Homo sapiens: one gene and its partner. The protein of the gene in region 2 interacts with the protein of the main gene of each other region in a pairwise test. Each region holds a gene or a part of one and is shown on either strand. Other genes may lie near its edges. The genes, in order: TXNDC5 and GMPPB.

Region 1 (14,998 bases), on a different chromosome or scaffold from region 2:
CTGATATTAGGAGACCATTTGCAAAAAATGGGATGTGGTATAGAAAGATCTTTTAAGTGTAAAGAGTAACTAATTTGATTCATGTTATAACGGTGTCATTAAATTCTGGGTTTTGTTTGGTTGTTTTCTGAGACAGGATCTCACTCTGTCACCCAGGCTGGAGTACAGTGGCATGATCACAGCTCACTGCAGCCTTGACCTTCCAGGCTCAAGTGATCTTCCCACCTCAGCTTCAGGAGTGCGCTTACCATACCCAGCCTTTTTTTTTTTTTTAATCTTCTGTAGAGACAAGGTCTTGCTTAGGCTGATCTCGAACTCCTGGGCTCAAGTAGTCATCCCACCTTGTTCTCCCCAAGTGCTGGGATGATAGGCATGAGCCACTGTGCCCAATCTAAATTCTGTTTAGACAGAGAGAAGCTTTTGTTTCTGCCTGAGGTCATTAAGCATATGATTATCATTAATACACAGGCATACTTCCGAGATACTGTGGGTTTGGTTCCAGACCACTGCAATAAAGATAATATCACAATAAAACAAGTCACACAAATTTTTTGGTTCCCTAGTGAATATCAAAGTTATGTTTACACTATAGTCTATGAAATGTGCTACAGCATTACTTCTTTAAAAACAATGTACCTTAATTAAAAAATATTTTATTGCTAAAAAGATGCTGACAGAGGGATACAAAGTAAGCACAAGCTGCTGGAAAAACCGCTAGACCTGCCAGATGCTGGGCTGCCAAAATCCTCAATCCGTAAAAAAATGCAGTATCTCCAAAGTGCAATAAAGTAAAGAGCAATCAAGCGAGGTGAGTCTGTCAATAAACACTCTTAGCCAAGGATGCACTGTCCAGCTAGTGTGCGGGTCACGTGTGCTTAGCATTAGACTCGGCGTTTCTATAAGGGCACAGACAAAAGGAGAACTCATGTTTTAGAGGAGGTGCACTGAACAACGGTCCCAACAGCTCCTCTAGAGTGACCCTTTGTCAGTGCCACTGATGCTGCTATCTAAGAGCCCTTGAGTAGCAGGAAGGAAAAGCCCAGCACGCCAAGGAATAATAGTGATTCTCTGAAGCTGGCATCAGGACGTCCCCCTTACCTTGTGCAACGTGCAGCTCAAAGTTGCTTGCTGAGAGCTCATACAGCCCTTGCTTGAGCTCGGGGGCACTGGGCGGTTCCACTTCCGGCTCTGGTGTCTAACAGGAGGAAATAAAACAGTCATGGGTGTGTCAGTGGAGACACAGGGAAACCATCCAGGAGGTGACTGTGTCTGTGGGGAACCGCCTGCAGATGCCTCCCTCACCCAACAACCTGGAACCCTTGTACGATGCTGCTGTGCTGAGTGAGGCCAGGTCAGGAACTGATCTCGTCAAGCCCTCTGGAAGCTTCAGCAAAAAGCCCCCTCGTCAGCCTCACCCTCAGTGAAAGCTCTAGGTCTGAGTCTCCAGGGCAGCCAAGTGATAGCTGTCCCTACCCCAAAACCCAACCAAACAAAGCAGACAATGCAAAGGACAGTCTTACCCTATACCCTGTCCTCTTCTTTGAAACGTACTTGGATACTTCACAAAGAATACAAAATACAACGCCCAATGGACGTATTCTGAAGGGGTCAGCACTTGCAGACACCAGAGTGCCCAGCGCAGTGGCTCGTGCCTGTAACCCTAGCATTTTGGGAGGCTGAGGCAAGAGGACTGCTTGAGCCCAGCAGTTCAAGACCAGCCTAGGTGACAGCCTAGCATTTTGGGAGGCTGAGGCAAGAGGACTGCTTGAGCCCAGCAGTTCAAGACCAGCCTAGGCAACAGAGTGAGACCCCATCGCTACAAAAAAAAAATTTTATTTACCTGAGCATGGTGACGTGCGCCTGTGGTCCCAGCTACTTGGGAGGCTGAGGTGGGAGGATCACTTGATCCCAGGGGGTGGAGGCTGCAGTGAGCTGAGAACATGCCACTGCACTCCTGCCTGGGCAACAGAGTGAGACTCTTCCTCAAAAAACACACAAACAGACACGAGGGTAGCAAAATGGACAAAGCTGAGAATGAGAAACTCAGGGACCAGGAAGGCCTGGTTATCCTTACTTTACACAAATGACAGGGAAAACTGTGAGGAAGACACAACTGTGGAAGACTGATCAGAGAGAAAAGGAGGTGATGAGAAGGAAAATGCAGGTGAATGAAAGGCAACAGAGAGAAAACCATGGCATGAACATAAGCTGCACCTTCAAGAAAGAATGTAATTCATATGACTAAGTCTCATACAGAAAGAGGGGGAAAGGGGCTTTTCAAAAGATGCTTCTGCCAGGACCCAAGCAGACAGCAATGTGTGCAGCTGTCTAGTCACAATCCTACATTTCTCAACTTTTCAGACCAGGTACAGCTGTGGCTTCCAACCAAAGTAACCAGAAATGAGGGAAAGATAATGGAATCAGTGTTCTGCTGCAGACACATTAAGTGTATATTACTCAGCTTTTATCTGGGGGTTCATATTCCTATTAAAAAGAATATCCAAGCTAAGTTGTTAAAGGCTTTAAAGGTGCTGACAGTTCAAAGCTGTGCAGGGCTGGAATCATAAAGAACCACAAAGTTTCCCTTCTGCTGCCAGCGCGTCAAGACTTTCAAAGTGCTAAATACCCACACAAAACAATGCCCAAGGGAAGAATGGCTAAGTGAACAGTCAATGGGTGCACATAAGGTGAAATAAAATACCGTGTGCCACTCTCCATGAGATGTTCAAGGGCCTTTCAGTATGAAGTGTTCATTTATGGCACATGCGGGGCCTCTAGTTGCTTCCTGGGTTCCTGGCAGACTCCAGAGCAGTCCCCCGGCATGGGAACACCACAGTGCATCCCAGAAACAGGTCACGTCTTGCCCTACAGTGGCAGCATAAGCTGATATGGTGCTTAAGAAACCTGGCTATATTCATCAAGAGCCATAAAAATGATCTTTTTTTTTATTCTTGGCCTTATAATTTTATGTCTGGGAATACTATATTCTAAAAATATCACTCAAAAGAAGGGGGGGTGGAAAGTCCTTTACAAAGATAAACTTGTTCCCTACATCATTACTGATGATGGAAAAGGTATAAATAACCTAAATATCCACTGACAGAATTAGAGTTGAATTATGGCAAATCCACATGATAAAATAATATAAGACATGATCAACATAAAGACCACATAAATATATAAAATCATTAATGAGATGAAACATGTTTGTATAACTGTTCAAGAAAAAATACAGAAGCAAACATGGAAATACAAAAATTGCAGTAGAATGTACAAAGTGACAAATTGTCTTTTGAGTTTCTTGAATATTGCCACAACACTTAAAAAAATCTAAATTTATCCCACGTGAATATTAAAAAATGTATGTACTAAGTTACTTAGGTATACAGATAAAGAACTTTTTTTAAAGTTTTCACTTAAAAAGCTAAGAGAATTCTGGTTTGCAGTATAAAGTGTATATACTTAAACTTTTCCACAATAAGGCGCATTGTCATTGTTTCTGGCAATTATCTGGGGCCTGCTATTGCTGGAGACACTAAAATATGGCAAGTTGGTGACTGTGGTTCTGGGGTGGCATGGGGGGATTACACGCGGCCATCCTGCTCCCACACTGAGGAGACAGAAAGTCCCTTGCAGAGCCTGGACGCAGCCTCTCAGCCCTTTCCAACCTGCAGGTGAGGCCGCCACCTCCACTAAGGGAAATGGGCCATGAGATGAGGTCTTTCTGCCGTCCTGATACTGGCTGCTGGTTTCTTGAATAAAGCCATCATAGAAGACTGGCTTTTTTGGTGAAATTTATTTGAGGCTATTAACTCCTCCTTAAAATTGGTTTGCTACCATCCAATATATGTGTCCCCACAAAGAGAATATTTTCACAAAGGAAACAATGTCCAATTGAAAACTATGAAAGTCACACCTGCTCATTCAGCTTTCTTGCCAGGACAAAGATGCAAATTTCCTGAGAGGTCTGTGGTTCTTTTAGCTAAAGTTAGGTAAGTCTCTGGTTCAACGACATAACATCACACACCAACAGTCTCCACCATACAGTTCAGAGAGTTTTTTTTTTTTTTCCACGATAGTTTTTGCTCTGTTGCATAGGCTGGAGTGCAGTGGCATGATCTCGCCTCACTGCAACCTCTGCCTCCTGGGTTCAAGTGATTCTCCTGCCTCAGCCTCCCAAGTAGCTGGGATTACAGGCACCTACCACCTGGCTAATTTTTGTATTTTTAGCAGAGACGACGTTTCACCATGTTGGCCAGGCTGGTCTTGAACTCTTGACCTTGGGTGATCCACCCGCCTCAGCCTCCCAAAGTGCTAGGATTACAGGCATGAGCCACCACACCCAGCCGAGTTGAGAGAGTCTTTGCAGGTGAGGGATGGAAGCACTGAATCAGCAGCCAAGTTTCTGATTAGGTCATCAGAGAAGATGGGGCAGAGCGGAAGAGCCGCACAGACACACTGGAAACTGGCAACAGTAAGCGGCAAAGCTCCAAAAGGACCACCACAGACCACCTTCAAATCAGTGGGCGCTTAGCTGATACAAGAAGGTAGTCTTAGGTATTTGTTGAAATTGAAATTACAAAGACTTCAGATGCTCTTCCTAGCTCATCAGGATCCTACAGTGTAGGAACACGAGTGTTTTTCCAGTCCCTCTCCAACACAGCAGCATGACCCACCAGGTCTACCCGGCATCCAGGGACCTGAGCACTCGGCATTAATCAGAAGGCACCACCCACAAAGGAACACTTAACCAGTGGTTTATGATCATGATGATTTATAAAAAAGTGAAGACTTCCAACATCAACTGGGGAGGGGGAGGATTATAAATCCTTTTTAGTACATAATATTCTAAGAGTCTACAATCTCCTGATATTAGCCTTAGTAAGGGAAGTGCATTAAGACACAGAGTATTAATGGTACAAAATGATGTTATAAGCAAAGCCCATTAGAGACTCGGGGACTGAGCACCGAGAAGAAAAGGAAGGATCCACCCTACGGGTACAGCTGTCGGGCTAGGCCCGAGCCAGAGGGCTGCAGGTGGTGGAGGGCAAAGGTCGGGGGGATGGGAGGAGGCTCCAGTGCTGGCTTGGATAGGAGATTCTAGGCTGGGCCCAGCCCTGACCCCAGGTGGTCCAGAGTCAGTCTCTGATGCTGGGGTACAGTTGTGAACTGTATTACCTGTGACAGTGGCAGGGTGGCAGTGTTAACAAAGAGTAAGTGCTTATCTGTGAGGCCACACAAGTGACTTCCCTGAAGACTGACTACAGCCAAACAAGGCGCAGGGTGGTGGGGAAGACAAACACCAAAATGGTGGTAACTGCTGAAACTCAGGGTTTAGCCTTCTCTTGACTTTTGTGCACATTTAGGTATTTCCACACCAAAAAGTTTCTGTAAAAGTTCATCTTTACCTGTAATACCAATAAGCTCCAAAAAAAGTAGAGTTGCTTTAAAATGGCAGCCTTAATCATTAACCTCAACTGGCCTCTGCCCCGTTACATATTACCCCAAAGATGTAGGCAGGGAGAGAGGGAGGGAGGGAGGGAGGGAGGGAAGGAGGTAGACACTCACCACTGGCTCCTCGTTCAGTGTCTGCAGCATCCAGTTTTCCAGTGTCTGGAAGTCCCGAGGACCCTGGTACTTCACAGCTTCTTGGCCTGGCTTGAAAAGCTTTAAGCTGAAAGAATAACAAAGGATTAGACAGAGCAAAAAGAAAGTTGTCTTATCAGAGAGCAAACTCATTTAGTGAAACAATCAGAAAATGAGCTGTCAAGGGGCTGCAGCCAGGCATGTATCTGCTCCTCTCTGATAAAAAGGAAACAAACATAACGTTCCAGGAGATAATACATTCAGTTAATCCTAAACTTTCAGAAGTTTCTGGTTTTATTCAAGGAAAACTAAAATGAGGTGAAAACTTCCAGCCCGCTGCTGTGACTGAGGCCTCAAAAGCTACAGTACTCAGTGCTCCTCTGCAGCAGCCTCGGGCCTTCCCTGCAAGCTACTGTTATGCTTTCCCGGCTTCAGCAGTTGTTGTCTGTGTTCAAATTAGGACTGGAGCAGACACGGTGTTGTTTTGCAATTAAGGTATTCTTCCAGGCCACCTGGCAGGTATTCAACTCTTACAAGGCCTGAATATCCAGTTACTGTGAGAATTCAAGTTTCCAGCTATAAGAACATCCTTGACATTGACTGATGCTGTCCATTCACCTTCCCATAGAGAAGGAATCTTTTCTTTTTCCTACAAATGTTGGCCTCTGAAGGAATCTGCAGAGAGGATACGGGAGTAGGTCCTTTAACCATAAGCAAAAGACATCACCAGAGGATGAAATTAACACTCAGTTCCTGTATCCCTCCAGCAGTCACGGGAAAACGTGCTCTAATACTCTAGATAAAAATTCATAGAAGGTGTCAAGGATAGGCAAAAATGTGACTACCAATAGAAGAAAAAAGAAATACAGAGTACCATTTGTTAGCAAGCCTGCTCATCTAAACACCCCTGCCACTTCTACAGCGCGTATGTGGATTTTGTGAGTAAATGCCCAATGTACGGTATCAGAATTGTAAGACGGCAACATATGTAAAATCTGACATGAAGGTTTGAATAGTGTCTTAGTTCAACGGCTGTAACAGAAGACCACAGATTGGGTGTCTTAGAAACAACAGAATCTATTTCGCCTAGCTCTAGAGACTGGGAAGTCTGAGATCAAGGTGCCAGCAGAGTCAGTGTCTGGTGAGGGCTTTCTGGTTCACAGATGGTGTCTTCTTGCTGTGCCCTCACATGGCAAAAGGGGAAACAGAACTCTCTGGGGCCTCTTTCATAAGGTATGCAACCCTATTCATGAGAGCTCCACCCTAATAACCTGCTCCCTCTCAAAGGCCCCACCTCCTATTGCCAGCATTGGGGATTAGGATTTCCCCTATGAATGCTGGGGTACACACACATTCAGTCCAAAAAAAAATGGCTAATTCTCCTTAAAATGAAGTCACATGGCTAGATTAGGCTTTGAAATTAGTATCAGCATACTGGCCTTACCCAGAACCTAAGATGGTATGATGGGGCATAGGTAGGGTCCCTAATGTGTCTCCAGTGCAGAATATACACCCAGCTTCCTCAGCAGCTCAGACTCTCATAACCACAAAAAACAGCCAAAACTTAACTAGATTTGGCCAGTACACCGGCTACGTCACGAAGTTCAACATGATAAGCAACTGCAACATCTGCGGTATCAAAGATGATTGCCCTCACCTAGCCTGGCACCTCCCCAGGCTCCCACAAGGTGTGTTCCGCACCTGGAAACAGAAACTGCTTCCTGCACGGCTCTGCCTCCCGCTAACGCTCTTCAGGAAGGGAAATGGGTGGATCCTCAAGACATCAGAAAGGACCAGGGACGGTCACACTTGTGTCTTTGCTAAAAGTAAAATACAGTAAGACCTAGCCTATGATTTTTTTGTAATTTGCTATTCATTTGCAAAACAAATAATTTAAAAAAAACCATCTTCTTGTTGTTGGACTGATAATCGTTCTAACCTGCCCAGGAAGTCTGAGATTCTTCCTCGGTAAGTTCACAGAGCCCAGGGACAGAGCGGACACTTCTGGTCCAGACCTTGCAGTGAGTTTGGGACATCTGACTTCAATTCTCACTGTCGACAGGGGTGAGGGAGGTGATGGAGACTGGGCCACAGGGTACAAGCCCAAACAAAGTATTGCCCCAGATTTCCGCTATTACCAAGCCTCCACATGGGCATTTGAGTCTCCTTTTTCAAGGAGACTGCAGGGAGAAAATCCCCATGTAGGTACTGCCTTGGCAAACAGCATGATGAAAGTTCTACTACCGTAGACAGTGTTATCAGTTGAACTGTGTCCTGCAAGACAGATCTGTGTAAGTCATAACCATCAATCTCAGAAGGTGACCTTATTTAGAATAAGGTCTTTACAGAGATATTCAAGTTAAAATGAGGTCACTAGGATGGGCCCCAATCTAGCATGACTGGTGTCCTTGTAAGAAGGGTTTGGACACAGAGAGACACACACACACAGAGAGAGAAGGGCATGTGAGGACAGAGGACGGCAGTGATGCATCTACAAGCCAAGGAACGCCAAAGATGACCAGGAAACCAACAGGAGCCAGGACGAGGCAAGGGAGGATTCCCCTACAGGTTTCAGAGGGAGCATGACCCTGCTGGCTCCTTGATTTAGGACCTCTGGCCTCCAGGACTGCAGAGAATACATTTCTATTGTTTCTGGCCACCCGGTTTGTGGAACTTTGTTACAGCAGCCTAGGAAACTAACACAGGTAGTTCCCCCCGTCAGTCCTGCCCTGCTGTAATGATTCATGACTGGCCCAACAGGAAGACCTCAAAACATTTTCCTGAGCACAGCCAGCCATCTCTAGGGAGCGTGGGAGCCCAAACTCCCTGCCCCTCCAATCCTTTACTCCAGTTACACTTGCCAGGAAAGAATAACGTGAAAGCTCATGTCCTGACACATGCCTGGACTCAGGCAGGTACAGTCGTCACCTGCCTCGGGCCTCACAACCACTCTATGGGATGGGCACTTGTCTTAGAGGAGTCAAAGCTCGCTCAAGTCAATCTACAGATGCCCCAGTGCGACCACATTGCACACAGCACATTCCACCTCCTGCATTCTCGGGGGGAAAATAATCTGTTCTTGGAGCTTCTGCAGGGCAGTGATGGTCACAGAGGTTCCTTCCCAAACTGTGTTCAGTGTGGTGTACGTTCATTTTTGTTCTTTTTAATAACACAAAACCAGCCATGGTTTACTTGGGGAGACCAGCTCTTCTCATTAAAAATCTAAACACATGATCCAACATGGGCCTTTTTAAATTTGTGACTTTTTACATTTGTGACTTTTTAAATTTGTGATGGTTTTTGGTGAATACCAACTATGGAGTAGCTGATATTGCAGCTGACAGCTGTTATGGCCAGGCTGAGGTGGAAGCCTTCACTTCCTTCTCTGAAGCCCCATAACACATACCACTCTCAGCTCCATTACAGGTCCTGTGTCACCTTCCCTGTGGCATGGTGTGTGATGCACATAGTCTCAGGCCACAGATGGTCAGCAGGTTAAGAGGAAAGACACCACAGCCAGCTCACCCCTGCTGCCCCTGAACTTTGAAAGCAACAGTTTCTCAACAGGTAAGCATTCACCTCCTCGCCCTCATCTCTGCTCACTACCTGCTTCTTTGGGATGCTCTTGATCCATACTTTCAATGCAATACTATAAAGCATAGAATAGTTAATGCTTTTACGTAGATACAGATAGTAAGCAATTTTATCTCCATTGATCTGATTTAAAGTAAACCCAAATTATGGCACTTACATTAGCAAGCAGTCACCAAAGACCAAGAATTCCAGGGTCCTTTGTGGAAACGCCCACATTTCCAAATGGTAGGGAAAACCCTAACATGTATTGGGTGTGCTCAGATTGGTGTCTGCACACATTCCATGTAAGTCCTGTAACAATGTTTGGGGGATCACCTTACTTACAGGTTAAGTGATGAGGTCAGAGCTGGGTGGTAAGTAAATGGTAGAGCTGGGATTTGACTACGACTTCTAGGTTCAAGCCTGGAGATCCCTCCACTTTTCTGCCTCCCAGGTTTGAATATAAGCTCCAATTTTTTGCTTTATTGATGGACCCCTATATTATTCAATTAAGCAATAAATTGTATAGAATTGACTTCATTCCTCAATTGAAACAAACAGCAAGGAAGTGACCGTGGCAATCCCTCCACCTCCTTCAGAAACAGCTTCTTCTCTTTTTTGAAGAACTGCTTTTCCCTCCAACACTTGGCACATGGTGTGAATGGGCATGTGTCTTGCTATAAGCTCCTGTTTCCCTGGCCACAGTGACTATTCCTGGAACGAACATTCCAGCCAAGCAGGGCCAGTCAGTGGTGGGCCCTTCTGTGCAAACAGAGATACAGGCCTGGAAAGCCGTCATCTCAAGGGAGGTGCAGGAGAAACAGACCCCAGGCCCCTGGAGCTGGCTCTCAGAGGTTCCTCCACAGCCTTTTAAATAGTCCTTTCTTTCTGTTTAATAAGAGAACAATTCTATTTCTAGAATTGAGAACATTTCAATTTCTATTTCTTATAACCAAAAAAATTCTTAACTGTCAAGGAAGTAAGTATCATCGTCTGTCAGACTCTATACTTTCTTTCCAACAGGAACAGCCCTGTGGGAGTCACACGGGAAGGAACTATAGGAAGGGTGTTTGCGAATAAGTCACCAGCAAAAGCAAGCCAAAACTGATGACAGTCCATGCACACTGTGTAAAATGTACCGGTGAACATCTAGCATGGCGGGACCGTCATTTTTCTCTTGCAAACACATTCTCTTATAAACAGGAAAACCCAACACTGATGAATTAAAGGTTATCCAAGTATAAAAGCCATCTAAAACAGACACAGCATTAAATGCAGTTTCTCCCTAATGACAGGGACTGCCTGCTTAAATTTAGTATCTCTTCACACCTTTACCAAAAGTTTAACTAGGACTTTCTTTGTAGCCAGGAGCCACCTAGGAAGTGTGCCCCCTTCCTTCCAACTTACGTGGGGTATCCTCGCACCCCCTGGGCGGAGCACACGTCGGAGTGGGCCGTGCAGTCCACTTTAGCCACATAGACTTTGGCATCTTCCATGCTGTTGTATTTGTCTCCCAGGTCATTCCAAGTCGGCTGCAGCCGCTGGCAGTGTCCACACCTGGAACAAGGCAAGAGTACAAGCACATTGAGTATCAGGTCACAGGGCAGCTGGCCCACAACTTCAGCTCTGTCCAGGGGACAATGGGGCTCTCAGTCCTTTCTTTACACCATTGCAGATGGCAGCTCCTGGACCAGTACTCCAGGACCTCTCTCCCCTGCTCCCATCCCTCCAGAGTCACTGCCCTGTTCTCAGCATGAAATCTTGGCCTTGTTCCAGTATTAAACTTAGCAAAGTGTTGTTCTGGATCCTAGTTGTTCTGGCCCTGCTGACCTCCCGCTTGACTTCTATCCCAGAGTCCACCCTCCTTCCCTTGTGGCCTACTCCTGAGCCCTACTGCAGCATCTGCAGTGTTCCCAAAGGACTATAGCTTGGCTTGGCCCTGGGACACATTCTCTCTGACACTTCGTCCCTAAACTCCACCTAGCTAAATCTATCTGCCCTTCAGGTTTAGTTTGGGTGTCACTTCCTCTAGCAAGTTGGCCCTGACTCCCCGGGCTGTTCAGCACCCATTCTCTTCTCCTGCCCTTCTGGAAAGCCTCTCTACTCCTCCCTTGGACAGTAGCTTAGCACTTCCTGCTGTATCTGCTACTTTTATTCGTCAAGTCTCCTCCACTATATAACCAAATGGCTACAAACATAAGGCAATCTCAAAATTTAATCACCTGCAATTTTCTCCAATGAGAAGGGGAAAAAAAAAGTTTGTGGCCACCTATACTTCTAGGGTTGAAGTAAGCAAATGTCTATTCTTAGTATTCATTGTATGAATTCAGTTATGTATAAATATTTTAAAATCACCCATCATTTAAAATAGTATCTTAACTAGGCTTCTTGCCATGCTTCACATTTCATGAGGATATCAGCATCTTTCCCAACACTAGACCTTAAGTCATACAGCTGACCACAGCTCTTGCTGTGTTCTCTGGACAGTATGTCTACAGTGCCATACTCGAATTTTGAATGAGACAACCCTAGAAACTTTATCCCAGGTTTCAACTACAATCCCATAGCATTATGACACATGGGTTTGTTTGCTATTTAATATGGCAGGAACACACTGATGCCTACAATGTAACCACTTTGCTGTATCGCTTTTTAAAATGCTTTTTTTTTAAACACACTTGCTTATATGAACACTCAACGCTTAGAATTGTGACTTCTTCCTCAAAATAATTTAATAATCTGTTAAATCTCCTTTTATTTTCTGACAGATTACCTCAAAAATAAGCATTTAAGTCGGTAGCAGTGGCTCATGCCTGTAATCCCAGCACTTTGGGAGGCCAAGGCAGGAGAGCTGCTTGAGCCCAGGGGTTCAAGACTGGCCTGGGCAACACAGTGAGACCCCCATCTACAAAAAATTTTAAAAAATTAGCCTGGTGTGGTGGCACACACCTGCAGTCCTAGCTACCTGGGAGGCTGAGGCAGAGGGATCACTTGAGGCCAGAAGTTTGAGGCTGCAGCGAGCTATGATCACACCACTGCACTCCAGCCTGGGTGACAGAGATTTTGTCTCTTAAGAAAAAAAGGATTTAAGCCGGGTGTGGTGGCTCACACCTATAATCCCAGCACTTTGGGAAGCCGAAGCAAGCGGATCACAAGGTCAGGAGTTCGAGACCAGCCTGACCAACAAGGTGAAGCCCCATCTCTACTAAAAATACAAAAATTAGCTGGGCATGGTGGCACACGCCTGTAATCTCAGCTACTCAGGAGGCTGAGGCAGGAGAATCGCTTGAACCCGGGAGGCGGAGGTTGCAGTGAGCCGAGACCATGCTATTGCACTCCAGCCTGGGCGATAGAGCAAGACTCCATCTCAAAAAAAAAAAAAAAAAAAAAAGAAAAACAGACTTAAAGGTAGCACTGAAAAAGTCTGCTTCAAGTTAATGTGTCTTCCCTAAACAGCACTTTCTTGGCCAGCTAAGAGAATCCCTGCTTTATGAGATACTCAGATACAAAAAAAAAAGCACAATGAAACTATACATGCAGATTTAACTTCTGTAGATTCAACAAAGTGAGTTTATGTGGCGGGGGAGAAGGAAACAAGAAAAAAAAAAAGGCAATTCCCACAGAACCCTGAAGTGTGTGCAAGCTGGGAGATGTGAGGTTTTTGTTCCTCAGCAGGCCTTGGTTCCTACATGCTTCTCATGGCATGAGCATCTCTCCGACTACATTAAGTGTGACCCTGCTGTCTAAAGGCACAGGTTTGAGAACTAGTCCATTTGGTGTTTAACCAAAGAAGCCATGATAGTTCTAATGCTGGAGGAAACGCTGGCAGTGGGGACTGACTGACTGACTGGGGCGGTGTCCAACAAGGCACCTTCCTAAGGGACTGTCAAGGGCAGTTCTGACCTTCAGGGGACTTTGATCAGATATGCTCATTCTGGAACTTTAGAACTCCTCTGCAATCTTGACAAGGTTTTGTTTTGCTACTGCTTTTTTTTTCCCTTTTTTTTTTTTGAGAAAACACAAGATTAGATTAAGAATGAGAATAAACAATAAATAAGTTTGTGGTGCGCTAAATCAAAACTGACCATTCTGGGCCATCACCAAGTTGGGCGTGCCCTTGCTCCTGGCTGTGATGGGGCCACAGGTGCTATCTAGTCGGCCCTGCGGCTACAGCACCCAACTCTGAGACAGGCAGCTGCACTCAGAAGGTAGCCTGTGGCCAAGAAGTAGAGCAAAGCTACCTGGTCCAAATCTTGACCTCACTGTCACCAGGTTCAGGGTGACTCACAAACTGGCCATACAGAAGTTGTGACCTGATGTTGGCAAAAAATCTACAGCAGCAGGATAACCCTGCAGAAGCCAAGTGCAGGGCAAAAATACACAGATTGATGTTTTTGTTACAGGGGCCCCAGCCCCTTAATCACACGTGGGCTTTCACCACTCCACGGCAGCTGAAACTGGAAAAAGGTATGTGTGTGTTGAGGGGGAGTCCACTGAGTCTTCTATCTGAGCTCCAAACGCTCAGCTCACCACTCCAGGACCTCCTTCCCTCTCCTGCATAGACCCCTCCAGAGTCACCACCTTGCTCTCAGCCTTACAACTTACCAAAGTGTTGTGCCAGGTATTGTTGGTCCTACTTGATCTTGCCCCTGCTGACCTCCCATTTGACTCGCCGCCCACTCAGCCTCCTTTCCTGGCAGCCTATTCGTGAGCCCTACTGCAGTATCTGCAGTTTTCTGAAAGGGCCCTCTTAAAAGTCCAACTTAAACACCATCATAGAAACCCACATATCTCTGTTTAAGTATTTGTAGTAGACTATCAAGAAGTCAACAAATATGCCAGGTGCGGTGGCTTACGCCTGTAATCCCAGCACTTTGGGAGGAAGAGGCGGGCAGAACACGAGGTCAAGAGATCGAGACAATCCTGGCCAACATGGTGAAACCCCATCTCTACTAAAAATACAAAAATTAGCTGGGCGTGGTGGCACGCACCTGTAGTCCCAGCTTCTCAGGAGGCTGAGGCAGGAGAATCGCTTAAACCCAGGAGGTGGAGGTTGCAGTAAATCAAGATTGCGCTACTGCACTCCAGCCTGGCAACAGAGCAAGACTCCATCTCAAAAAAAAAAAAAAAAAAAAAAAGTAACAACATAAAGCTAATTATTCTGGAAGCATCCAGCTAAATGTCTACAAGCCACATATAATGGAAAAGGAATTTACTTAATACCAAGTGCCCAGATGTGCCAGTTTTCTCTCACTCAGCCCAGGACTAGCTGGTATTTATTGCAAAGATTCTAAACTTAAAATTCCTTTGGCACTGTGGGGACTTATTACATCTGCATGTCAGTTTTTCTTTAAAAAAAAAAAAAAAGTAAAGAATGGGATGCGATGGCTCATGCCTGTAATCTCAGTACTTTGGGAGGCCAGGGCAGAAGTACTGATTGAGGCCAGGAGTTTGAGACCAGCCCCGGCAACATAGCGAGACCCTGTTTCTACCAACTACAACAAAAACAACAACAACAAAATAAGCTGGGTGTGATGACCTGCGCCTGTAGTCACAGCTACTTCAGAGGCTGAGGCAGGAGAATCACTTGAGCCCAGGAGTTAGAGGCTACAGTGAGCTGCGGCTGCGTACCACTGGTTTCAGGCTGGGTAACAGAGCAAGATCCCATCTCTAAAATAAATAAATAATGAAGAAAGAAAAAAGAAAACCCATCGACAGATGTATTCCACTGAAATAGGCTCCAATTAAGTAGTACACTTAATTGAAATAGTTGCTGAGAATACTCCCGAACAAAGAGAAACTGTTAATACTGCCTGATTGTTTTATGTTACAAAGTAAT
Region 2 (13,085 bases):
TCCTGCTGCTGCGGGAACTATTGATTTGTATCAAGCTGGTGGGGAGGTGCGCCAGGCCCGTTGCAGCTGAGGGCTCCGGTTACTGCTGCCTGCCAGCCCAGACTTGGTGCCCACCACCTCGGCCATATGCCAAGGCCAGGCCAAGGGCAGCAGAGGACAGTAGAGGACAGCAGGTTTGCAGCAGGGCTTAGAGTAGGCTCTTGGAGGAGCTGGCCTTGGTGCCGGTGGGGAAGCATCTAAGCCGCCCTGTTTAGGTCTGACCCTATCTGAAGGGTGTGCGACCCAGAACTTGCTGAGGGTCAGGCTGTGGCTGTGTGGCTGCTCTGGACCTGGAGTGGATGGTGTGGTGTCAGGGCTGGACACAGCTGCAGCCTGGGGCTTGCCTAGTAGAAGGAGGGGACAGATTCTGTCCCAACTAACTCCAAGGCAGCTGTCCTCTGTCCCCTGCTTTCATGACCTGAGCATTCCTAGGGAGCCATCTTTCTGTCCTTATACCAAAGCCTCAATGGGCGAGGACAGAGGCAAACAGGCAGAGGCCACTGCAGTGGAGTCCCTGATGATGCCGCCTCCTGTCCCCCTGCAGAGCCCTGCCCTTCCACCCTGCTGCAGCAGCACATGGCGGACCTCCTACAGCAGGGTCCTGATGTGGCACCCAGCTTCCTCAACAGCGTCCTCAATCAGCTCAACTGGGCCTTCTCTGAATTCATTGGCATGATCCAAGAGGTGGGCTGTGGTGGGGCCTCGTGGGTTAGGGTGGTGCAAGGGATGAGGCCTGGTCCTGGGCTAGAGCCAGGTGCTGACCACTGCATGCCCACGTGTTGGTGGCTCAGATCCAGCAGGCTGCTGAGCGCCTGGAGCGGAACTTTGTGGACAGCCGGCAGCTCAAGGTATGTGCCACCTGCTTTGACCTCTCGGTCAGCCTGCTGCGTGTCTTGGAGATGACTATCACACTGGTGCCTGAGATATTCCTTGACTGGACCCGGCCTACCTCTGAGATGCTGCTGCGGCGTCTTGCACAGGTGTGGCCATCTGGGCAACAAGGGTGGGACCCTGGGGATGCCCCATTGATGACGCTCCCCATCCACCAATGGACTCCTGCTCCCCTCACAGCTGCTAAACCAGGTGCTGAACCGGGTGACAGCTGAGAGGAACCTGTTTGATCGTGTGGTCACCCTACGGCTGCCTGGTGAGGACCTAGATGCCCTGCACCCCAACACACTACAGGCCTCGGTTCCTCTGCTAGGAACAGTGAGGCCTGATTCCACATTCTGCCCCCGGACAGCCAGACTTGGTGCTCTGCAGTCTCGGCTCACCCTTCTGTAGAGAGGGCAGTGGGCAGGCCTGGAGCCCTTGAAGCAGGAGCATGTGGGTGGCTCATCTCTTTCCTCCCCTTCCCCTCAGGCCTAGAGAGCGTGGACCACTATCCCATTCTGGTGGCAGTGACGGGCATCCTGGTGCAGCTCCTGGTGCGTGGCCCAGCCTCAGAGTGAGTGTTGGGGACCGTGGGCCCCTGTGGGAGTTGGGTGTGTCTGGTGAGGAGGGGCTGGACAGGGCCTCCTGGTACTTCAGTTTCCTCATCTGGAAAATGGACCTCAGCATCAGGTTTTGAGGCAGAGGGAAGGTGGTGAGGTGTGAACGGCCTAAATAGGGGGCAGACGGAGCTGCTCTAAGTAGGAGAATCTGGGACCCCAGCAGGACAGGTGGCCCTGGCCCACAGAGCCACTGGCTTGTGGCCATGCCTCAGGCCAGGCATGGGAGGCAGGACTCCGGAGGGTGTGCCGTCCTGTGGTGGACAGGGCCAGGCCGCCAGGAGAGCTGAACACACGGAGGACCGCCATTGTCTGCAAAGGCTCTAGCAATAAGCATGTGCTACCTTTATTAAACTCTGGAGCAGCGAGGTCCAGGATGGCCATGGGGGCCCCCAGCTCGGCCCCCACACATGAAGGGCTCCCAGACCCCCCTTCCCTGCCCCCCTGCAGTGGGAGCAGTGAGATGCATATGAAGCCAGGGTACCGCCTCAGCCATTAGGCTGAGACCAGTGCCAGCCCTTAAGAGGCTCCTGCTCTCGAGGGACGTGGAGTTCCGGCTCGGCCCTCCCAGCTCGGCCATGCTCGCCAGGCTTTTCGGGCTTTTTACTGCTGAAAAGCAGGGGTGCAGGCCATGATCCCCTTCACTGTGTCTTGTGAGCCCACAGAATGGGCTCTGCCTTCAGAACAACGGGTGGATGCCCCAGGCCAGAGAGAGCAGGGCCTCTGGCTGGGGCTTAGGCCAGACCACCAGGAACCTCTTGAGGAGCCTTTCCTGCCTGGTGCCTGCCCACCGGACTCTGCGTGAAGTTGTGAAGCTTTCAGGAGGTTGGGTGTTGGTGGATGGAGGGAGTCCCATTTCACCAGAGGGCGGGCTTGTTTCCTCTTTCTGTCCTGGGGTGTGGGCGAGATCTTCCTTCAGAGCCGCCTTCTTTTCCCTGTGGGCCCACTCCCTCCCACCCCCTTGGGAAGGGGAGGTGGCCCTGCGTCAGCTCTTGAGCACCACTCCTCGAGAGCTGTCTCAGCCCCTGAGGGTGGACGGGAGGCTCTGCTACAGGGGTTCTTCCACAGGCTGTAGAAGAACACAGCCACTTCCACAGCTGTGCTGTGTTGAAAGCCACAGGGGCCTGGGTCTCTCAGCCTCACAGGGCATTTGGGCACTAGGAAGTCCGCGGGAAAGCAGGAACTAGCACACCTTGCAGGGCCTGGGGCCTTTGGGTCCTGTGCAGGGGCAGAGCAGAAGGCAGGTTGGGGACCACAACCCCTGTCTCTACCAGTGAGCGAGAAGGCCCATTGTGTTTCGAGGCCCATACAGGAAGCTGGGGGGCCAGGCACAGTGCTTCCCACCAGTATCTGCCAGTTCTCTGGACCGAAGCAGGGAGCAGGGCGAGCAGCAAGAGGGTGGGGGCCTGGGTGGGGGAGCCCTGGGCAGTCTAGGTTGTCATGGGACCCTCGGAGCCTATGGAGCTGGCGGACTCAGAGCCAGCCTTCAGCTGCAGGCCTCCAGGGTTGTAGAGATCGAATTCCTCAGCTACTGCCAGCTGCACGCGGCCATTGAGGCCCCTCCGGCCTGGCTCCAGAAAGACTACGTGCTTGTGGACGCTGGCCTTGCGGCTGGGTGCGTCTGGCGGTGTGGTGCTGAGTACTGAGGACTGTGCGCTCAGCTCTTGGAGCGGGCTGGGTGTTTGGGGCCAGCGGCGGCAGCGGCAGGCACGGCGGCAGCAGCGGCAGGGTGGGGCGAACAGGTAGAGCAGCACGAGCACAAGGCCCACGGCACAGCCCAGCAGTGTGGTGAAGCCTGTGTTGAAAGCCTCGGGCTCTGGGCGCGGAAAGTGCACGCTCACGTTGTACTCGTGCGTCTGGTTGTGGTGCAGGCGGGGCCCAGTGGCCAGGCACACGAAGAGTCCCGCATGCTGCTCCTGTACGTTGCCTATGGCCAAGCTGCCGTCGGCCAGCACCGCGATGCTGCCATCGCGGGATCCTGGCGCCCTGAGAAGCTCCTGCTGCGGCGAAACCCAGGCAATGCGCATGGCCGGGACGCTGGTGTTGCAGTAAAGCCTCAGGGACCGACCCACCAGCGCGTACAGGTGCTCTTCCGGCCGCTCTAGGCCAAGAGCTGGGGCCGACGAGCAGTTCTCAAAGACGCGGCTGTGCTGGAAGAAGCGCACGCGGGACGCGGGTACCTTGAAGGCCAAGCATACGTACTCGCGCGCAAAGTCGCGCACGGCGCTCAGGCCCCGCTGGTGCCAGCGCTGTAGCAGGTGGTAGAGGCGGCAGTCGCAAGGCAAAGGGTTGTTGTGCAAGTAGAGGCCGTTCTTGAGGAAGGCCGGCAGCGCGGCCAGCTCAGGTACGGAGATGTGTCCCAGCCGGTTGGAGGAGAGGTCCAGAGTAAGCAGGTGGGTGGCGCTCAGACCGTGCAGGTGGTCGAAGGAGAACGAGGCGAGTTCGTTGCAGCCCAGGTAGAGATGGCTGAGCGCGCGCAGGCCGTGGAAGGCATGCTCGTCCAAGTGCACCAAGCGGTTATTGAACAGAAGCAGCTTCTCCAGCGCCCCCAGCCCGTCGAGGTCGTGGCGGCCAAGCGCCCGCAACGTGTTAGATGATAGATCGAGCAGCCTCAGGCCGCTGGCGTTGACGAAGACGCCGCGACCCAGCGCATCTAGTTCGTTGTGGTCTAGGTGCAGGGCGCGCAGCTGGAAGAGGGGCGCCAACCAGCCGGGGCGCAGGCGCTGGAGCGCGTTGTGGCTCAGGTCGAGGTCCGCAGTAGCGGCAGGTAACTCGGCTGGCACGTCCTGCAGCCCTAGGCCAGTGCAGCTTAGCAGGTCGGCAGCGCAGATACATTTGTAGGGGCAGTTGTGGAGCGCACGGGGCGGGAAACCCTCGGAGTCCGGGGTGCCTAACCCAACGCGCAGCATGCAGAGCAGTGTCCCCAGCAGCACCAACCAGGTCATGGCGGCGACCACCAGGGACAGTACAGAGCAGCTCTGTGCAGGTTGCAGTTCCAGGACTCACCCTCTTCTGCTCTAGTGCGACATGGGTGGCACCGGATGGCCCTTGCCGAGGAGGCACGGCGGGTTCTTGCCAGCCGACGGCCCCTACTCTCCGGTTCCCAGGTTGTGAGGCGGTGCGGCACTCTTAGCCGCGCTCCCTTCGGCTTCGCTAGCCCTCTCCAAGCGAGTTCCTGATCGGCTCCTAAATACTCCCCCCAGGGGCGGGGCCCGGGCTCCTATTGGTTCCCGTTTGAGGAGGCGGGGCGGCTACATCCCTTTGTGCCCAATGGCCCCGCATGACCGCCAGATGGGGAGCAAGGCCAACCCCAAAGTCCCCGTCAGCCTTTGGCTGGCAGCTCTCCGCCGCTCGTTTTTCCTCGGGGAGTAAAAGGGGGAGTCTGGAAGAATGTCTCCAAGCTGCTGTTAGTGTTTATTTGAAGTGACTTTGAAGGACTGATAATATTATGGGGCAGGCAGACTCTCACTATCTTAAGGTGGTTCGCCTGAGCCTTCTTAAAGTGGTACCCCAGGCCGGGCGCGGTGGCTCACGCCTGTAATCCCAGCACTTTGGGAAGCCAAGGCAGGTGGATCACCTGAGGTCAGGAATTCGAGACCAGCCTGGCCAACCTGGTGAAACCCTGTCTCTACTAAAAATACAACAATTAGCCGGGCGTGGTGGTGGGCGTCTGCAATTCCAGCTACTCGGGAGGCTAAAGCAGGAGAATCACTTGAACCCGGGAGGTGGAGGTTGCAGTGAGCCGAGATCGTGCCATCGCACTCCAGCCTGGGCAACAGAGCGAGACTCGTCTCAAGAAAAAAAAAAAAAAAACAGGCTGTGTGGCACCTTACTAGAATACAGGACTTGGGGTTTGGGAAGCAGGGAGACGGAAAGGATGCAGGGGGGGTGATCATGTACGAGCCATGGCACTCCTCATTGGCAATCCCAAGAGAGACTTTTAGCCAGGCCCCAAGCCTTCTGACTGCCCTTGCACCCTCCCCTACCTAGGAGAGAGCAAGCCACATCAGTGCTCCTGGCAGATCCCTGCTTCCAGCTACGCTCAATATGCTATCTCCTGGGACAGCCAGAGCCCCCAGCACCTGGCACTGCTCTGCCAGCCCCTGACCGGAAGCGCTTCTCCCTGCAGAGCTGTGAGTGGGCTGGTGGGGCAGGTCAGGGAAATCTGGGGCTGGGTCGGGTCAGGAGCCTTAAGAACAGCAAAGTCCTAGGCTGGGAATATTCAAGAGGCATCACATCCTCAGCTACCTCTGACTTGACACTACCTACCACTCCCCAGATGCGGATTATATCAGTGCCGATGAGCTGGCCCAAGTGGAACAGATGCTGGCGCACCTGACCTCTGCATCTGCCCAGGCAGCAGCTGCCTCCCTGGTGAGTGGGAACACGGTGCACAGGTCCATGCCACTTGAATATGTGTGCACTCCTACACAGGCACAACGGACATCCACATAGCCAGGCATCCAACTCCAGCCCACCCTTCACTCTCCTCCCTGCAGCCCACCAGTGAGGAGGACCTCTGCCCCATCTGCTATGCCCACCCCATCTCTGCTGTGTTCCAGCCCTGTGGCCACAAGTCCTGCAAGTAAGTGGGCCCCACAGCTTGGTGGTGGGGAGAGCAGTAGGTACATGCAGGGCAGTCCTCATCCCCTCCCCTGTTGTAGAGCCTGTATCAACCAGCACCTGATGAACAACAAGGACTGCTTCTTCTGCAAAACCACCATCGTGTCTGTAGAGGACTGGGAGAAGGGAGCCAATACGAGTACTACCTCCTCAGCTGCCTAGCCCTCACAGCCTGTGCCATCCTGGAACCTCCACCTTTGAACCCAGAGCCAGGCTGGGCCCTATTTATGAGCTCCCTTTGCCCTTCTCCTGTATCCCACACCACCACATCCAACCTCCTTGCCTGCCTGTATCCTCATTGGTGGGAGCCCAGCCATGGCCCTAATTGTGCCTGAGCTTGACTTTCAGTCAGGGCCACAGTGAGCATTAAATTATTATTCCATACAGCCCTGGCCCTGGCCCTTCTTGAGGGAGTGGGGTTTGTGGGGTGTGCCCAGCAGGGATCCTGCCAGATGATGTCCACATGAGAAGGCAGGTGTCCAACAGCTTCAGCTTCACCCAGTGCCCCCCAGACAAATAATGACAAGTCCAGGGTCTTCTGATGTGTCAGGCCAGCACTCCCCTTGCTGATGGGAAAACCGGGGCTCGGCCAGCCCCACTGCATCCCCTCACATGATGATACGAGGCTCTGGCACTGACTCGCCAATAGACTTGTGGGGCAGCACGCTGGCTCCGTTGAGGTAGAGCTCATCATTAACTATGACGTCCTCACCCAGCACTGTCACGTTCTCCATGCGTACCTCCAGGAGAGGATAGGCCTTGTCAGGGAGGCAGGCACACTCCCCGCCCCTCTCCCCACCCAGCCCAGCCCACAGGCTTACCCACTGACCCACGCGGCAGCGCCAGCCCACAATGCAGGACTCAAGCCAGGAATGGGAACGGATCCGGGCATCCCGCAGCACCGTGCACCGCCGGATACACACACCATCTTCGACCACCACGCCAGGTCCCAGGCTCACATTGGGGCCAATGCTGCAGTTCTGGCCGATGCGGGCACTTGGGTCCTGAGAGCGGTGGGAAAAATACAAGTGGGCCACTTGTCTCCCAAGACTGAGGGGGTTAATGATGGGCTGGGCAAGGGCCTCACCACCAGCACGTTGCCCACAATGCCAGGGCCTGAGCACAGCCGCTCAGGCTGCTTCTGCCTCAGTGACTGCAGGAAGAGGCACATGCCAGTGAGGAAGTCCTTGGGCTGCCCAATGTCCATCCAGAAGCCTGTAGGGAGGGATGCATCAGGGGCCTCAGCCCAGCCACAGACCACCCCCACCCTGTGGCCTCCCTGCCTCACCCTGTAACTCCATGGCATATAGCTGCCCCTCCTTGGCCATAATGGGGAAGACCTCCTTCTCAATGGACGTAGGCTGCAGCTGTGGGAGTGGGCAGCTTGTGAGCAGGGTCATGGCGGTGATGGCCTGCCCCACCCCAGCCCACCAACAGCTGTCTCCTACACACCTGGATGCGCTGCAGCACTGCAGGGCTCAGGATGTACATGCCTGCGTTGATCTTATTGGACACAAACACCTGTGGCTTCTCCACGAACCGGTGAATGCGGCCTGTGTCAGCCTCACACACCACCACACCGTACTTGGAGGGTTCCTCCACCTTGGTCACCTGAATGCAAGGAAGGGGACCTCGGACCTAGTCCAGTGTTCCTAAGCCTTGATACACATGCCGTTCCAGATCTCAAGAGACTCTGCCCCAAGTGCTTAAAGATACATACTGCACAGCTCTGTATCCATAACATCCGAAGGCAGATGAAGGCTAGGGGGCATGGGAGGCTGGGCATGGAGGGTGAAAGTGTCAAGAGAGAGAAGACCTGGCGCCTTACCAGGATGGAGCCCTCCTGGCCATGGTGCCGGTGGAACTGCACCATGGCTTGGAAGGGGAAATCGCAGATCACGTCACTGTTGAGGACGAAGAAAGGGTCTGCAGTCTCAGAGAGTAGGTCACGGGCCAGCGCCAGGGGCCCAGCTGGGGGAAGGGGACAGGTCACCACCTTGCTGGAGGTCTGAGTCCCTGGATTCAGGCTCAGCAGGCCCACTCCAGGCTGGGTCTTACCCTTTTCCTGGCCTTAAACCCTCCCCCAAGGGACCTTTCTGCCTCTACTGACCTGTCCCCAAAGGCTCCTCTTCATGGGACATGGAGATTCGGATTCCCAGCTGGAAGGAAGAGGCCCCCCCAGTCAGGTTCTACCAGGATGGGAAGTTGGGCGGGGACCGAGAATAAGGGCCAAGAGTCTGTGCCTCACCCTCTGCTCCTGTGCCTTCATTTCCTTCTCCAGCACCTGCGACATGTAGCTCACGGCCAGGATCACGTGGTCCACGCCTGCCTGTCAGAACGCAGGCCGACGGGCGGGCTCAGTCAGAAGGTACGGGAGCCCCTGACCCCTAGTCGCTGGCCATCCCTAGTCCCGCCAGATCCGAACGCGACTCTGATCCCGACCCAGGGTCTTACCGCGGCTAGCGCCTCCACTTGGTGCAGCAAGATGGGCTTATTGCAGAAGTCCACCAGTGGCTTCGGGGTGCTCAGCGTCAGCGGCCGTAGCCGCGTCCCATAGCCCCCCACTAAGATCAGTGCCTTCATCGCGCCTGCGGACGTTGAGGGGGTGTCCCGGGCTCTGAGGTGCCTGCAGCCCGCCTGGCCGGTCCCTGCCGCGCACTCCCAACGCCGTGCCCGGCCCCGCGCCCTTCACCAACCCGCCTGACAGACTCTGGCTCCACCTCGTCCGCCCGGTCGCCCTGACGCCGGATCCAGGGCCGCCACAACACAGAACGCGACACCGGGTAGACGGCTGCTGGCCCCGAACTCAGGCCGGACCCGGCGCGGGCAGTGACGCGACCACCGCGGGCCAATCGGCTGCCGCGTACGTGGCACGGCCGCCGGCGTCGGAACGTTGGAGCGCAGCGCTGCGACAGACGTAGCCAATGAGCGCCCGAGTACGCCGGGCTGCCATGGAGACCCGGGCCGGGACCCGCGGGTCAGCTGGCCATTGGCGGATCCAAAGGCGGAACTGGCGCCAAGGGCGAGGCCTTGTTCCCTGCTTCGCCGCGGTCCAGCAGCCGCCGGCCCCGCCCCACGGCCCCGGCCTCGCCCCGAGGGTGACCAGGGAAGGCTCCCGGGCCACGGGATTTTCACAAAGACAGACTCGCCTCCGTTTCTAGCGGCTTTATTTTTGACATACACGACCTCAGACACAAGCGGGGCGGGCAGCGCTAGGTGTACAGAAAGGAGCGGGCTCGGACCGAGCACCCCCTCCCCCGCACGCAAGGTCCAAAGCAAACGCAACTGCGGCGGGAGCCACCGGCGCAGGCCTCGGGCGGTGGAGACAGGCTTAGCTTCCAGGAAAGAGCAGCAGAGAGCGATTCCCAGAACGCGAGGGCTTACAGTTCCCCGAGAAGCAAAAGAACCAGGTCCTTCCCAGGGTTCTCCATTATTTTTTCCTCATTAAAATATATTTTAAGTCAGCACAAACATAACCAAATTGTACAGCTTTAAAGTTCAAAGCAGTCTGCATCTAGGGAACGTGCATGTGGTCAGGAGTGAGCGCGTGAGCAGCGGCTACGTAACTAGCACAGGTGCCAGGCCCCTTGATGGGAATCCCCATGCTCACTGCACAGGCCCAGAGAGGGAGGGGTGGGGTCCCTGGCAAGTTGCTACACTGGTCCCCTTCCTCTTTTAAGCACCACCCGTCCCACCCCACCCTCAGGGGCTGGTGTCAGCTTGGCCCAGGGAAGCACTATAGAGAGGGCTCACCTGAGCACCCCAACCCATGATCCCATGTTGCACTTTGTTCCCAAGTTGGGGCTAAGAAGGCTGGGCCTGGCAGGGACAGGGCTCTCTGGCATGGGGCAGGGAGAAAGCAGTGGCAGACAGTATGCACACACACTTGCCCACTACCATTAAATAACAGGGCTGGGTCTCCAGGTGTCCAAAGTGCTGAAAAGAGGGGCCCTGCTCTAAGGGAGCAGCAGCAAATCCCAGGCCTTCCCACTCTTTGTAGTGCCAGGAAAATACTGAATGTAAGTGGGTGCAGCTTTGCTCGCTGTGAGGAGCAGCAGAATGCGGCAGCCTCTCCTCCCAGAATCGAGGAATCTGGGAGGCACAGGACATCCCCAAAAGGTCCCAAACAGTTCCAGACCCTATGTCTTACCCTCCACCCTACCAGGGAATGACTATCTACACTAATGAAGGGCTACTGCCCCCATGGCTGAAGCCACAGAATGGTACAGGAGAGAAGACTGTAATTTGTGACCAGAAACAGGCAAGCTGTCCCTCCCAGCCCCAAAGAATGGGAACCTGCCCACCAGTGGCACCAGGGCTGGGGGCTAGGAGAGATGGCATCCATCAAGGAGCCCTTAAGAGGCTGCATCTTTAAGGACCAGGAAATGAGTCCATCAGTTACCAAGGCTTCTCACAGCTGGCAGGCTTACCTTTAAAGCCAAACAGGCACTTGCCTAAAGTGACAATGAACAGTGTGGCCCTAGGCTCAAAGGAGAGGGTGCTAACCTTGGCAATGGCTGAAATCGGTGTCACCTCCTGGCCATCTGTTAGAAGCAGCAGATCTGTGCCATTAAGGGCTGGCAGCCAAAATGACTAAAACCATGAGAAAGGAAGGGTCACTCCTCAAGCCCTCACTGCCCCACTCTAAGGGTTGAGGGCCATATTCTAGGCCCACAGAAATGGTGCTGGGTCAACAGGGAAACACCAATTTATTCTGCTATCAGGTCTTTATAAAAAGGCAACACCTGTGGAGGAAGGGCATGGGGCAAAAGCTCACCTCAGAAGTGGAAGTGTTCTGCTGAGGAAAGCATGAAGGAATGAGTATATACTAATGAACAAGGCTACACCCCAGGGGAAGGATCCCAAGGGACGGGCTGGCAGCCGGACACATGGACAAACTGATGGACCCAGGACTGATCAGACAAAGCTCTCATTAGCAGAATGTGGGCACCTGCACCCAGGGCCCATACCACGTCCCTGTGAGCAAAAAAGCTTAAAGTTCTCCCTCCAGGCCCAGGGCCAAGAGCGCCTCACAAAGGGCTGCTGCCTTGAACTTGGCCTGGGGAAATGAGACCCTGAGCGGACCACAGCCCTTGAGCCCTGGGAGGAGCAGCCCATCCAGCAGCAGCACAGCTGCCGAAACTTGAGGAAGAAGACTCCCACCCATAGCACAAGAACTGCAAATACTGTCTGGGCCAGAGCCACCAGAGGCCCTGAGGCCTGCTAGGACACCGACTATCCCCCACTTCAGTGGGGTGGGAGGGAGTGGCCTTCTTAGGCAAGGGAACTTGGTGAGAGAGGCTGTTTCAGGAATAGGACAGGTGCCAACCTGTCACGTGCCAACAGGTGCCTGGGGAACCCAGGCGCCGCCCTCTGCCATAAGTTGGCCTCAGCCCAGCTTCATTAATCTAGCCCCATGCTAAGGTCAGACCGAAGGATGGGTCCAGCTTTGTGCAGTCAGCCCTGTGGTGCCCTGAGGGCACCTATTAAAGAGCTAGCTGACACCCACAGCATAAGACTGGAAAGCCCCCAAGAAATGGGCACCCAGAGCCCTCTACTTCTGGGGAACAAGGGAAGAGTGGGCGTGGAGGGGCCCTGCACCAGCCCAGGGCTTTACCTTACAATCAGCAGGGCCCTGCAGCCACAGATCTCAAAGATCTAGACAAGAGAAACCAATGTCCAAGGGCACCCTGTCCCTGCTGCCAAGCCCACCAGGGGCACCTCTTCCTTCCTAAGGCAGCCTGGACACACCAGTCAGAGCCACAAAGCTGAGGAGCCTGGCTGAGAGGGCGTGTGGTCTGCCCTCCTTCACTTTATATATATGGATTCCAGGCTACAGCTAAAAACATTTCTTTTAGTTTACACCAAAGAGAAATATAACCCTTTAAAAGCAAGTCTGTGTGTCCTCACGGCAAGTTCAGAACAATGGTCCCTGCCTGCAGTGGAGAGGAAGGGGTTCTGGGGGCCCAGAACAGGGCCTACTGGTTCTCGTCCCGCATCTGTTCCATGATGCTGATGAGGTTCTCCAGGCCAAACACGTAGCCTCTGTCTGGCCCATCATGCACGGTGGGGTCATCCCGGAAGCCCTTGAATGTGCTGTGTGCAAAGTCAATCATGCGGACATCCACCTTGGGCTGAGAGGAGGGACCCGCCTCGGGGCTGGTGTTGCTGGGGCTGGTGCTGGGGCCACAGGATGACGCCACCTCAGGGAGCACCATGTCCAGGTGCTTGAGACGCATCTCAGACCGGCGGTCCAGGCAGGACTCAGCCCGGCACTCCTTGCCATCATAGATGACAAGCAGGGAACTGGAGTAGAAGCGGTAAGAGGCCTGCCGCTCCAGCACAGCTTTCAGGCCCCGCAGTTTGCTCAGGATAGGCTCAAACAGGTCACGTCGCAGGTCCAGGCCATTGTGCAGATATTGATAGAGGGCATTGCGGAAGCCTTCAATGGAGAGCCCACGGCCATAGTACTTGTTCCTGCAGAGGTAATGCCCTGTGTCCAGCTGGTACACCTGAAACCCCAGGAGGCAGACAGGGTGAGTGCCAGGGAAGTCTGAAGAGCTCACAGTGCCCTGGGCAAACACTGTCTGGAAGGGACTTTGACCAACCTGAGCTTTTCTGCTCACCTATCTAAGTGGAACCAGGCAGGCCACATTCACCCTGGGTTTTCCCATTGCAGAACCAAGAGAAAGCAATACCAGGCCTATGGGTTCCCTGCCCCCAGCTTTGGAGCCCTCCTCCAACATCGGAACATCTTGTTGACAGGCAAGAGTCTTATTTGTCCCAATGTCGAGGCAGCAGACTCTCACAGTGGTCCTGCACCTGAGGCCCATATCAAAGTCAACAGGTAAGGACAGAGGGGCTCAGGAGGACACACTTGGCATAGATGGCAGGCAGGTATGAGCACAACCCAAATCATGCAAGTGGCAGCAC

The links.
Region 1: the proteins of GMPPB (region 2) and TXNDC5 interact in a two-hybrid assay, tested with the Homo sapiens proteins (2 studies listed by BioGRID and IntAct).

What each region holds. Positions count from the first base shown.
Region 1 is NC_000006.12:7,894,008-7,909,005, forward strand, and holds part of TXNDC5 (thioredoxin domain-containing protein 5 isoform 1 precursor), read right to left. Parts: intron 10,717-14,998; coding exon 10,567-10,716; intron 5,675-10,566; coding exon 5,569-5,674; intron 1,196-5,568; coding exon 1,099-1,195; intron 1-1,098. UniProt on the Homo sapiens protein: Protein disulfide isomerase of the endoplasmic reticulum lumen involved in the formation of disulfide bonds in proteins. Can reduce insulin disulfide bonds.
Region 2 is NC_000003.12:49,714,992-49,728,076, forward strand, and holds GMPPB (mannose-1-phosphate guanylyltransferase catalytic subunit beta), read right to left. Parts: upstream 8,961-13,085; 5' UTR 8,736-8,960; coding exon 8,607-8,735; intron 8,482-8,606; coding exon 8,401-8,481; intron 8,312-8,400; coding exon 8,263-8,311; intron 8,124-8,262; coding exon 7,981-8,123; intron 7,764-7,980; coding exon 7,605-7,763; intron 7,520-7,604; coding exon 7,441-7,519; intron 7,368-7,440; coding exon 7,240-7,367; intron 7,157-7,239; coding exon 6,974-7,156; coding exon of another isoform or gene 6,893-6,973; coding exon 6,761-6,892; 3' UTR 6,315-6,760; coding exon of another isoform or gene 6,194-6,314; 3' UTR 6,115-6,193; coding exon of another isoform or gene 6,029-6,114; 3' UTR 5,904-6,028; coding exon of another isoform or gene 5,809-5,903; 3' UTR 5,663-5,808; coding exon of another isoform or gene 5,520-5,662; 3' UTR 4,925-5,519; downstream 1-4,924. Other genes in the region: E3 ubiquitin-protein ligase RNF123, read left to right, coding at 584-723, 831-1,019, 1,111-1,186, 1,402-1,486, 5,520-5,662, 5,809-5,903, 6,029-6,114, 6,194-6,314; AMIGO3 (amphoterin-induced protein 3 precursor), read right to left, coding at 2,960-4,474; IP6K1 (inositol hexakisphosphate kinase 1), read right to left, coding at 12,131-12,664. UniProt on the Homo sapiens protein: Catalytic subunit of the GMPPA-GMPPB mannose-1-phosphate guanylyltransferase complex. Catalyzes the formation of GDP-mannose, an essential precursor of glycan moieties of glycoproteins and glycolipids. Can catalyze the reverse reaction in vitro.